Linked DNA regions of Homo sapiens. The protein of the gene in region 2 purifies or fractionates together with the protein of the main gene of each other region. This does not show direct contact. Each region holds a gene or a part of one and is shown on either strand. Other genes may lie near its edges.

Region 1 (3,650 bases), on a different chromosome or scaffold from region 2:
AACCAACAGCCTAATGTGAAAAGAAACTGCACTGAAAGGTAAAGGAGGAAATGGTGATGAACTGGGCTTATGTGAGAATGTCTATATTTTCATAACACAGCCCCAGAATCTTTCTCTCAGTTACAGCCTCAGGCAAACCACGTTCTGGTTGGTGGGTTCTGCAGGGATCTCTCCCACCACTGAGCCTCTAGTCCCAAAACCATCCTTGACAACATCGTGTGTCTGTTACTTCCCTTTGCCCACCTCCAGGCCACCTGGGGAAGCCCACAGGCAGCCAAGACCCTGAAATGAAATGAACACAAAGTCTGACTCGGTAAGTATTAGTTTCAAACAGAACACTAAAGAGAAAAGTTGAAGCTGCAATGTGTGTTTAAGGCAGAGCCCAGCAGATCCGTGTCCACCCATGTGCCAATAAGACAATGGGCAAAGCTACAAATGGCAAGAGAAAAATGGGACTATTAATGCGTGTGGAAAAGGCCTTAATAGTTAAGTTACAGCTAAGAATGTCATGTCTTGGGTTAGAATTTTCATTTTTAGCACCGTTAATGTATTCACTTAAATCTATGTTAGCACCTTGTCTCCAGGCAGAACAACAAACCATCCAAACATTTTAAACATTGGGGGAAACACGAAGGGGAGGGTTAAAGAGAGAATCCGGTACTGTGGAAGGAGTGGATTTAGATCACAAGATCCTTGTCGATATCCTCTGCAAAGCAAGAAAAGAGCACGGTTAAAAATAAGGCTGTGTCGATGATAACGCACTTCCCAAGGAGTCAGTGGACTCCCACCCATCCCCAGGGGCAGGGGTCTAGGTGGCCATGCAAGGTCACCCAGGAAGTCAGTGACGGAGGAATCTCGCTCTCTCTGTCTCTGGCCTGTCCCTGTCTCTTACACACGCTGCCAAGTTACACTTCCTGTTTCCTCTCTGTGTGCCTGCCAGTTCCCAAAATAGTGTTTAGCACGGGTGAGTGCTAACGCTTGAGGAAGGGAAAGAGAGAGGGACAGTTGGATGGACAGAGAAGGATCAGGAAGACGCCCAAGAGACAGGAGTCAAATAGGCAGAGAGAGCAGAGACAGGCAGAGAGGACAGACAACAGACAGACCAAGAGAGCGGAGAGTGGGGGGATGACAACCCAGCACCCTGGGAGCAGTGTTTCTGCCCATGCCCCTTGCTTCTTTGTTCAGACACTCACTCTGCTTGATGCCGAAGCAGCCGGCCCACTCATCCAGGGCGATGTACTTGTCATTGTCCAGGTCACAGGTCTCGAAAAAGCGGGTGGTGCAATGCTCCATGGGGATGAGGGGAGCACGCAGTGGAGCCAGCTCGGTGTGGGAGAGGTACCTGCAGGGAAGGAGGCAGGGGAGGGCCTGAGGCATGGAAAAGCTCCACACCCAGCCTTGGGAGGCAACCGGGGAGTTAGCCTGCCCCAGAGCATGGAGGAAAGGATATTTAAAGCAGGACAAAAAGCCAGAATCCCAGGTCTACCCCTAGCTCTGCCACTGACTGCTCTGAGACTCAGAGAACAGCAGTGCACCATTCGGAACCTCAGTTTCTCCTTCCAGCAAAGAGGAGGAGATGGCCATAATTACTAACGGCCCTTCCAGCTCTAAGGTTTCAGGGTCTCAAAAACAAAGGTCTGTTTGGTGTATTTGATTGTTTCCTAATTGGCTGAGAACTGGGGACACAGAAACTTAAAATCAAAATTCAGCACTTCTGCTATGGGTAGATCAAAATCTAGCATGACACAGCACTGTATATTGTCTATGGACACACATTTATACATCTATAAATGCCTAGTAAAGGGTCTAAAAATGACACACCAATCTGGTGACAGTGCTGCCTTCTGGGGAGGAATGTGGAAAGGGACTGGGATTGGCAGTGAGGGTCAACGGGAGCTCTAACCATCTTCATAGAGCTTTGCTTGTGTATCCTGTAATGTCTGAGAGGGAGGCCCTTTGGATGTCTCTCCCACTGTCCTCCCTCCCTATTCTCCCTGCTGGCCTTAGACTCCAGAGCATGTGTATAATTTTTTTCTTTGTTTCCCAGAGCCCCCAACTACTTGTCCCTAAAGATCCACAAAGGATCTCCAGGGAACAATGTGACTCCAGTTGTCTTCTTAACCTCTAGACCTCGCAGCCCCACCCAGCTCACCAAAGAAATCACACAATGTTTGAACTGATAGGAACATTCTCCTCCCCTTCATTGTACTGGTGGAAAACTGAGGCCCAGGGAGGGGCAGGGATGCAGGCAAGGTCACCTACAGCCCTGGGATGGGAGGAGGAGGAAGCGGGTCCCCTTGCCCAAGCTGGACCCCTTTCCCAGATGTGCTGTTCTTGCACCCCATCTGAAAGCCTCCCTCCAGGCCCTCTGTTGCAGTGGGATCAAATTGCTTTGCCTGAGCTCCAGATGTTCCCCTTTGACTTTTCCCCTCCCTGCCATAATGAGTGACTCAGTTGGATCCCAGCCATGGCAAAAGCCTGGGAGAGAAGTGGCCGGGAGATTCCCAGAGCCCAGGAGACCCCAGCCCTCAGGATCACTGGCAGGGTTGGCAGACTCCAGGCACACAGGCTGGACAAAGAGCGAGGGGTGAACATCCTAGAGAGGAAGTTCCCTGAGTATGTGAGTAGGGCAGCCCTTCCTTTCCCCTCTGTGTGATGCTCTGCTTCCACAACCCAAGGACGAAGAAAAAACCACTCTGGGAAGGTGCAGGTGTAGCTTGCTCCATCTGAGGCTGAGCAGGGGCTCTCACTTCATCACCACAAGAGAAGTTCAGAAGGTAGTGACAGGTTATGAACAGAGTATAAGTCCATGAGGGCAAGGACCATGCCAGCTCTGACTGCTGTTCAATCCCCTGCCTAGAATAGTGCAGGGCACAAAATGCACACTCCATAAGCATTTGCTAACTGGCCAGCTGCCTGCCTGTTCGGCAGTGCAGTTGCACAGGGCCTCATAACTCGTTTGGACAAGGGACAAGAGCCCTCAAACTGGGGGCTTGCAAAATAGACAGGCTTTTTTGGATAACTTCCAGGGTCAGTTGGGCCCTATTGGGGCTGAGCCTTAGGAGGGGGCTTAGACAGTGCCAGGTGGCTGCTCTGCCCCTGGATGTTCTGCTGAAGGACAGGGGGCGTGTGGCTGACCCAACCTTGTCCCCTGCCACCCCTTGGAGCCTGGTACTCCTTCTTAATTCACACTCCTTCATTATCCAGATATCCACGCCTAGTACTTGCAGGATTATGGAGCTATTTTGAGCTCCTACTGACTTTCACCTCAGCATGAGAGTGTCTTATCGGTTTCTTTGTCCCAGGTCCACATCTTTTCTCCAGATGCCTCATCCTTCTGCTCCAATCCCCAGGCAAACTGTGGATGCCAGGGCTTGGAGCAGTATAGGCTGCTGAGAGGCTTTCTGGCCATAGCTAGTGCACCTGCCAGCCTTGAGCTCTGTTCACTCTAGGGTCTGGGGTCTTACCCGTCAATGGGGTGCTGGTCCAGCTGGCCGAACTGCCAGTGTACAGGGAAGATGTACATGTTATAGTTCTTCTCGAAGTCCCGGGCCAGCAGCTCCACGGGGTGGTCTCCTGCCTCCAGGCGCTTCTCATTCTCATGGATCTTCTTCACCTGAGGGAGTAGAGACTGTGTGTGACAAGAGGTC
Region 2 (3,750 bases):
CCCATAGCCAGTTGTGTTTTCCCAAATCTAGCTAATTGAACTAGGACGTAGCATTGTTGCTGCCCCAACTTCTACAGTCAGCCCTCTGTACTTACGAGCTCCATATCTGTGGATGCAAACAACCGTGCATCAAAATATTCAGGAAAAAAAAATGTATGGTTGCCTGTATACTGAACATTTTTTCTTGTAATTATTCCCTAAACAGTACAGTATAATAATTATCTACATAGCATTTACACTGTACCACTTATTATAATTAATCTAGAAATGATTTACCATATGTGGGAAGATGTGCATAGGTTATGTGGAAACACTATTCCATTTTACATAAAAGACTTCAGAATCCATGGATGTGGGCATCCTGAGGGGTCCTGGAACCAATTCCTCATGGACACCAAGGGGACTGTATAGTTTATTATCTGACCTTGAGGAAATGTTGTACCAATAAAAGGGGTTCCCTAACAACTTTTCTTTCTTCTATTATCCTTCAATTGATATATTTCAGAGAAATTTTATATGTAAAACAGAAGGTGAGGTGATCTGGCTGAACCCTATCTCTCACATCCTCTCCACTTCCAGAATAAACCCTCTGTATAATTTGAAGTTTGTATAACACAGAACACCCAGTTTTGAATTTTACAACCCTACACATTGAAAAAATATTGGGGGCTACAGGCCTACAGAGAATATTTGTATTTTGCCAAATGAGAACTTTAAAGGGAGCAAAATTATCCTTGCTGTCACTCCGGCAGGGTCAAATATCAGAATGAAAGGCATTTCTTCCCAAGGAAAAAGAGCTGGCCGGGCGTGGTATCTCACGCCTGTAACTCCGGCACTTTGGGAGGCCGAGGTGGGCAGATCACCTGAGGTCAGGAGTTCGAGACCAGCTTGGCTAACATGGTGAAAACCGGTTTCTACTAAAAATACAAAAAATTTAGCCAGGTGTGGTGGTACGTACCTGTAATCTCAGCTACTTGGGAGGCTGAGGCAGGAGAATCACTTGAACCTGGGAGGAGGAGGTTGCAGTGAGCCAAGATCATGCCATTGCACTCCAGCGTGGGCAACAAGAGCGAAACTCCATCTCAAAAAAAAAAAAAAAAAGAGTTTAATCCTCAGTGAACACTTTTGCCTCTAAGTGTATTGGAGTTAGAGTTCATGCCAGTCCTTAGGAAAGCATTTTGGAAGCATGGCTAAGGACATTCTGGGATCTGAACAACTCTACAATGTACCTGCTACAAGTGAAGATGCTTCCCCCTTGGGACCTCACGGAGGACCACCACTTGGTTCTCTTGGGAGCTACCCCAGAATCCTCACATGTCTGAACTGGCAAGAACAGGGCCTGCTGATGTCTTGGGAGAGCAAGGTACAAACCTGCATCTGACTTCGAATTAGCCTCTGGACTCGATATAAGTAGGTGTCGTTGCTGGCATTGTTGTAGGATTGAATGAAGAAGTTGAGTGTTGAATTCATGTTCTTCTTGCTCATGAGCTTCTGCTGGAAGCCCTCCCACCTTTGGAAGTGACCCAGCTTGGCTGACAGGACCAGGGCAATCAGCAGCAGCAGGGGGTTTCTCCAGCATCCGATCCCCATGTCTACAGCCTCAGAAACTTTCTTCCCAACTGCACCTTCCAGGGTGTGGTGGTGCCAGGCTGCAGTTCACTCATTCTCCCATCATAACCCTCACCAACATAGGCTTTCCTGGGGGATGGCCTGCCTGCATTTAAACAGAGATTCAGACCTGAACCTTGTCACTCAGTTTCCAGCCAGTTCATTTTCTACCCATTTACACCACCCATTCAGTTCTTTGGTGATCCAGGCAAGCAAAATTTTTAAACACCTGCTAAGGCGTGCAAGCCCCTCTCCCTGCCTTCACATGTCTCAGGGAAGAAAAGCCCCAGAACAGCCCCTACAGTGCTCTGCAATAAGAGCTGGGGTTGTAGATAGAGAAGCATCACTTACAGGAAGGGAGGCGGCCTTACGGAGAAGGTAATATCTGAACTGAGATATAAGGAAGCAGTCATATGGAGCAAGGAGTGGTACATTATTCTTACCTTCCTTGGGTTCCAACTGTCTTACAAAGCCACCACCTGTTCCCTGTGCTTCCTTTACAGACACGTTCTCCTTGCTCACCTGCCGCCCGCCCACCACAGATTTCTGCTTGCAGGATCCCCCTATACCTGCAGGCCCTGCACTGGCTTTTGCTATCTTGTTGTGACCCTAGTGGAGCTTTGTGAGGTAATTGCAGCCTCCCTATGAGGGAGGAATAAACTGTGAGCCCCATTTAGAAATTATCCGCAGACCCCTGAAGATTAGGTGTCACTTACCCCCAAAAGCCCATGAATGCCCTATTTTAAAAACATTTGCTGGCTGGGCGCGGTGGCTCACGCCTGTAATCCCAGCACTTTGGGAGGCTGAGGTGGGTGAATCACCAGAGATCAGGAGTTCGAGACCAGCCTGGCCAACATGGTGAAACCCCATCTCTACTAAAAATACAAAATTAGCTGGGTGTGGTGGTGTGTACCTGTAGTCCCAGTTACTTGGGAGGCTGAGGCAGGAGAATCACTTGAACCCAGGAGGTGGAGGCTGAAGTGAGCCGGGAGGGTGCCGCTGCACTCCAGCCTAGGTGACAGAGCGAGACTGTGTCTCAGAAAAAAAACAAAAAACAAACAAAAAAAAACACCTTAAATGGAATCCTACCAGAAAAAAACATTAGTGGAATAGTTGATGAAATGTGAATAAAATCTGCAGATTAGTTAATAGTATTGTGTGAATGTTGATATTCTAGTTTTCACCGTTGTACTGTGATTGTATAATATGTTAACATTTGGGGAAGTGGAATGAAGGGTATACGAGAATGCTTTATGCTATTTTTGCAGCCTTTGTGTAAGTCTGAAATTATTCCAAAATAAAGGTTAAAATGTCCAAAACTAAATAAAGCGTTGTTCTGTGAGGAGTAGCGTGCTGAGGGAGGGGAAGCAGGAGACTTAGGATCCAACTGTCCTGGCTCAAGTCCTTCGCTGGGGACTCTGGGAGAGTTACCTCATCTCCCTAAGCTGGGTTTCTTCACCTGTAATATGAGAATGGGGAGAAAGACTCCACTTGAATTGTGGTAGAGACTAACTGGATGTAGGCAAAGAACCTGCTCCCAAGTCAGGTGTCAGGTGCATAAGAATGTCTTCTTCGTGATTCTTCTGTGACTCTGAACCCACACTTCACCCATGGCCTGTCATGTCCCGGAAGCCAGGCCACCTTCCATCATGACAATGTTGCTAGCACCAGTCACAACATCCTCCCTTGGCCCCAGAGCCTGTCTTGAGAGGACTTGTCCAGCCGGTGGAGGTGATACATTTGAAATTCCCTGAGCCTGAGCTGCCGAGGGCCACTTGCTGTAGAATAGATAATGAAGGATTCCGAGTAATCCGGGAAGCCACACAGACCTGTGCCGTCTCAGCATGCCCCAGACACCTGGGATACCCCCATCAGGCTGAGGCCCATAGAGAGGAAAAATAACATTGGGTGGGCCATATTAGAAACCCCATGGATGTGGGGCTCAAAGCATAAACAATAAATCTGCTTAAGAAATATGGGAGTTGGTTGTGTCCATAAAGAGGAAAATGAGTCACTGGCAATTTTAATTGAAGAAAAGGAAAACATAGACCCTGACTATGCCACAGAAAGAGATGTGAGGCGCCTAACAGGTCACACTGGCGTTCCTTAGCTTGTGTCAGCAAAATGCTGATTTCTGACTCT
Region 3 (3,650 bases), on a different chromosome or scaffold from region 2:
GGCACTCAGCTCCTTGTCATCCTGGCCCTCTTTCCTGTGTTCTGGAAACCCTAGGCATGGGGCCGGGGAGGGCGGGTGATGGATAGGAAGTTCAGGTCTGAAACCATGTATCACAACATCGAAGGGTTTTTTTGTTTTTTTTGTTTTGTTTTGTTTTTTTGTTTTTTGCCAACTCCTATTTCTCTCCTTTCTTCTCAATCCTACTCTTCTCTATCCTAAATGCCACATTGTTATTGTTCTACTGGATAGGAGTAGCATTTTCAGAAATGGGGGATTTATTTTTATAGCACAGCTGGTCTGCCAAAGGTCACATAATTTGGCAATGTTCCCAGTGGTTAAAAATTAATTTCTCCTTATTAATACAACCAAGGTCCCAGAGGATCGGAGCTCAGCCTTATCTAAACTTGACAGCTTCCTAAACCTTTAGAAGATGCTTTCTCCTGGAGGGCCAGCCATGATACAAGGCCACTGTGTCCTGGAATCCTACTCCACTGAATCCTGTTAGGCAATGAAACCATTAAGCCTCTGACCATTTCTCATCAAGGCAGATAAAGCTTTGAAAAATACTGTAGCTCTCCAGGACAAACTTCTGCAGCATCTTCCAGAAATGGGTTAATTAAAAAACAAAAATCAGCAAACAGCCAAGTCCTTACCTGGAAGGAACAGTACAAAGACTAACTTCTGGTGATCAATATACTTATCTGCCACTCAAGGAAGGTATCTCAAAGATTATCCAGTTGCAAGTGATGGTCAGATAATAAAATACCTCAAATATGTTAATAACACTACAAGCCATTGCCCAGATGACACTTTTCAAGTCCTTTCTTGTCAGTTCAAGAAATTAAAAAGATATTCTTCTTTTGCTCTATCTTTTAAGAAAGGAAGATCTCAGCTCAAGTTCCTAAAGTCTTTCCAAACTGGACCTTTGGAGAATATATTTGGAAACCTCTTTACCTGGCTCTTGAATTCTGTCAACTCAGAATTGTCTTACACTCAGGTCATCCTGAGTCAGTTCATTTTCCTGATTGCTTTAGGGAAGACTTGAGTGAAATGAAAAACACCAGGGTCCCCAGAATCATCTGGTCCCTGGTGTCTCTCCTCACTGACCCCAGACCCCTCCCTCACTGTCATTTGTATTCGTGCCTCACTGCATATGAATTGGCATTTGGATTCCTAGCTTTTTCTATGCCTGGAAGATAGGAACTGGCCTTTCTGCTGCAGAACGTGGACTTGATACATTCAACAGCAGGGGATCAGAGCCATTTGGTAGACAGCAGGAGTCCTGTCTGGGTAGCCTGGGTTCCAGTCACTGCAGCCTTCCAATCTTTCATTTTGCCAGTTGAGTGCTCCGTAGCTTAATGTCTGAGGGCTCTATGGGATGACATAAAACTCCAAACCTGATGTGCACTGGCGCATTCACAATTCCACCAGGCACCGCTTGGACGAGTAGGGGCCTGCCCGGGGCCCTTTGGGGAGTGCTCCTCTTGCCACTGTCTTGCACTGTGTGCTCTGCTGGCAACTGGCCACAGCTTCCCTACCTCCAGGAGCTGATCACGGGGGAAAAATGTTTACTGGGTACCCATTTAATGTGGGCATGAGACCAATCCCTAGAGCCCAGAGCAGGCCGTCTGCGTAAAATCTAGGAGTTTACAGTTTACTTGCAAATTATTATGCTCGCCAATGGCCATCTCACATTTTGGGGAGACAGGCTAAAAGAAACACTTCAAACCCTTATCCGGCGCCTAGACCGTCATTGCTTCTCTTTCAGGATTTGTCTGAACCCAGACCTGTCTCCCACAGCCAATTTACACCTCTTATCTGATCATCCAGTCCAGACGGAAGGGTGAATTGACCGAGAATCTGCGCGTGTCCATGGCAATGGCGTTAAAACCCAAGCATAGATCAAAGCTCTCCAGACGAGGAGGGGAGGGGTAGATGGTTATGGGGTCTGGGTTCTTTTGGCCCCAAGCGATGTGTCCCGGAGGTGGGGACATTAGGCCTGGGAGTTGCCACCATTTGAAGAAACCCATTGTCAGGACTTGAATGATTTTCTGAGCAAAACCCAGTCCCCCCGCAGATCATGATTAACTCTAGCAAAGGGGACGTTCGTAGTGGGCGCTGATCGGGAATGGCTAGCGCCAGGGGGCTCTCCTCTCTGTCTGAAACCGAAAGAACAGGAAGTGGAGGGAGGGGAGCCGAGCAGGGAGCACACGCCAATAAACCTGAGCGTGGATCTCCTATCTTTTAGAAGAAATTCAGCCGGAGCCGCAGAAGCCGCAACGCATATGGGCAAGATCCCCTAAAACTTGGTCTGGAAAGCTGATTCCCGAAGGTTCCCCAACCCAGATGATTCCCAGAGGGGCGACAAGTCTATTCCAAATCCCTCCCCCACCTCCAAACACTAGGGCTACCGGCGCCCGCCACCCAGCCGCTGGACGCCTGCGACCCGGTGGGAAAGACCCCCGGCACAGCCAGCCCGAGTCGAAGGGCGGGGGCAGCCCTTCAATCAGAGCGCGCCTTGCCTCCATTAACTTGTGTTGATATTAAAAAGAAATCAATCAGTGAAAATGAAGCATCGGCCGTGAACATTTCTTTTTCTCACGTGGAAAAGCAAAGAGCGAGGCGGCTGGGGAGGGGAGGCGGGAACTCGCCGGCGGCTGCAGGCAGAGGCTTCTCCAGAGACCAGCGCTGCAGCCGAGACCTAACTTTCCGGCATAGGGCAGCGTTGAAGAAATGCCGCAGGCTTTTCCCTGGGGGTGTCCTTAGGAGGAGGAGGAGGAGGAGGGCACAAGCATGGAGTAGTTGGAGGCGGCCAACTTCGCGGAGGCTTCAGCCTCGGTTTTGCTTTCGCTGGGAATATTTTTGCTTAATAGAATGTTTATGGATCGCTGGGCTCTGTTTCTGCTGCGTAGCCCAAACAAATCGATGCGGCGTTAGAGAAGGCGCTGGGGGGCGGGGAAGGGGAGGGAGGGCTAGGAGGAGAGCTGAGGGGCTATCACGTCCCCACCACGTGGATGGCCGCACGCCGCGTGCTCTTCACCTGTTCCTGCGCACCGGCGGGCGCTGGGCGCGCGGCGCTTCTAGAGGCTGTGCAAGTTGCGCGCATTCCTGGGGCTCAAGCTGGTTCCTTCCCGCCTCTCTCCGCCCTCCTCTCCGAAATCCCACCCCAGTTTCCTCTCACCTAGTTGGGCCAGCGCTTGGATTCCCAAGCCAGCCGGCCTCGGCCTCCCGCCACTCAAAGCCGTCTCTCTAGGGGTCGCGGCGAGCCTGCCGCGCAGAGCGGAGCGCAGGGGACTGGCGGGGGCGCCCGGGGCAGGGAGGGAGGCAGGCTAGCGGCTGCACTGCGGTCTGGCGAGGCGGCGCAGTGAGGAGAGGGGCAGCCTGGTGCGCGTCGCCCATGCGGCCTCCCAGCCACGCGCCAGCCCAAGGTGCCGCGCGCCGCGACCGCCGTGTTATTTGCTCAGTTGCTCCCCCGCGCGCACCTTCTGCCCCATCTTGCTCCTTCCCAGAATTGGTTCTCGTCGCCGGCGGCGGCGGCTGAACCAGGCCCCCTTCCCGGCCGGCGCACACCGGGTGAGTCAGAGGTATGTGGCTTGGCCTCGCCCTGGCCACCCGCTGCCGGCTCCCAGGGTGCCAGTGCTTTGCTCCGC

The links.
Region 1: the proteins of CSTL1 (region 2) and SPARC purify together in Homo sapiens (affinity purification with mass spectrometry; one large-scale study listed by BioGRID and IntAct). This does not show direct contact.
Region 3: the proteins of CSTL1 (region 2) and NRP2 purify together in Homo sapiens (affinity purification with mass spectrometry; one large-scale study listed by BioGRID and IntAct). This does not show direct contact.

Annotation. Positions count from the first base shown.
Region 1 is NC_000005.10:151,662,894-151,666,543, forward strand, and holds part of SPARC (SPARC isoform 1 precursor), read right to left. Parts: intron 3,617-3,650; coding exon 3,468-3,616; intron 1,343-3,467; coding exon 1,194-1,342; intron 707-1,193; coding exon 678-706; coding exon of another isoform or gene 562-677; 3' UTR 1-561.
Region 2 is NC_000020.11:23,438,108-23,441,857, reverse strand, and holds the start of CSTL1 (cystatin-like 1 precursor), read right to left. Parts: upstream 2,174-3,750; 5' UTR 2,052-2,173; intron 1,715-2,051; 5' UTR 1,591-1,714; coding exon 1,372-1,590; intron 1,082-1,371; exon of another isoform or gene 959-1,081; intron 1-958.
Region 3 is NC_000002.12:205,685,354-205,689,003, reverse strand, and holds part of NRP2 (neuropilin-2 isoform 2 precursor), read right to left. Parts: intron 1-3,650.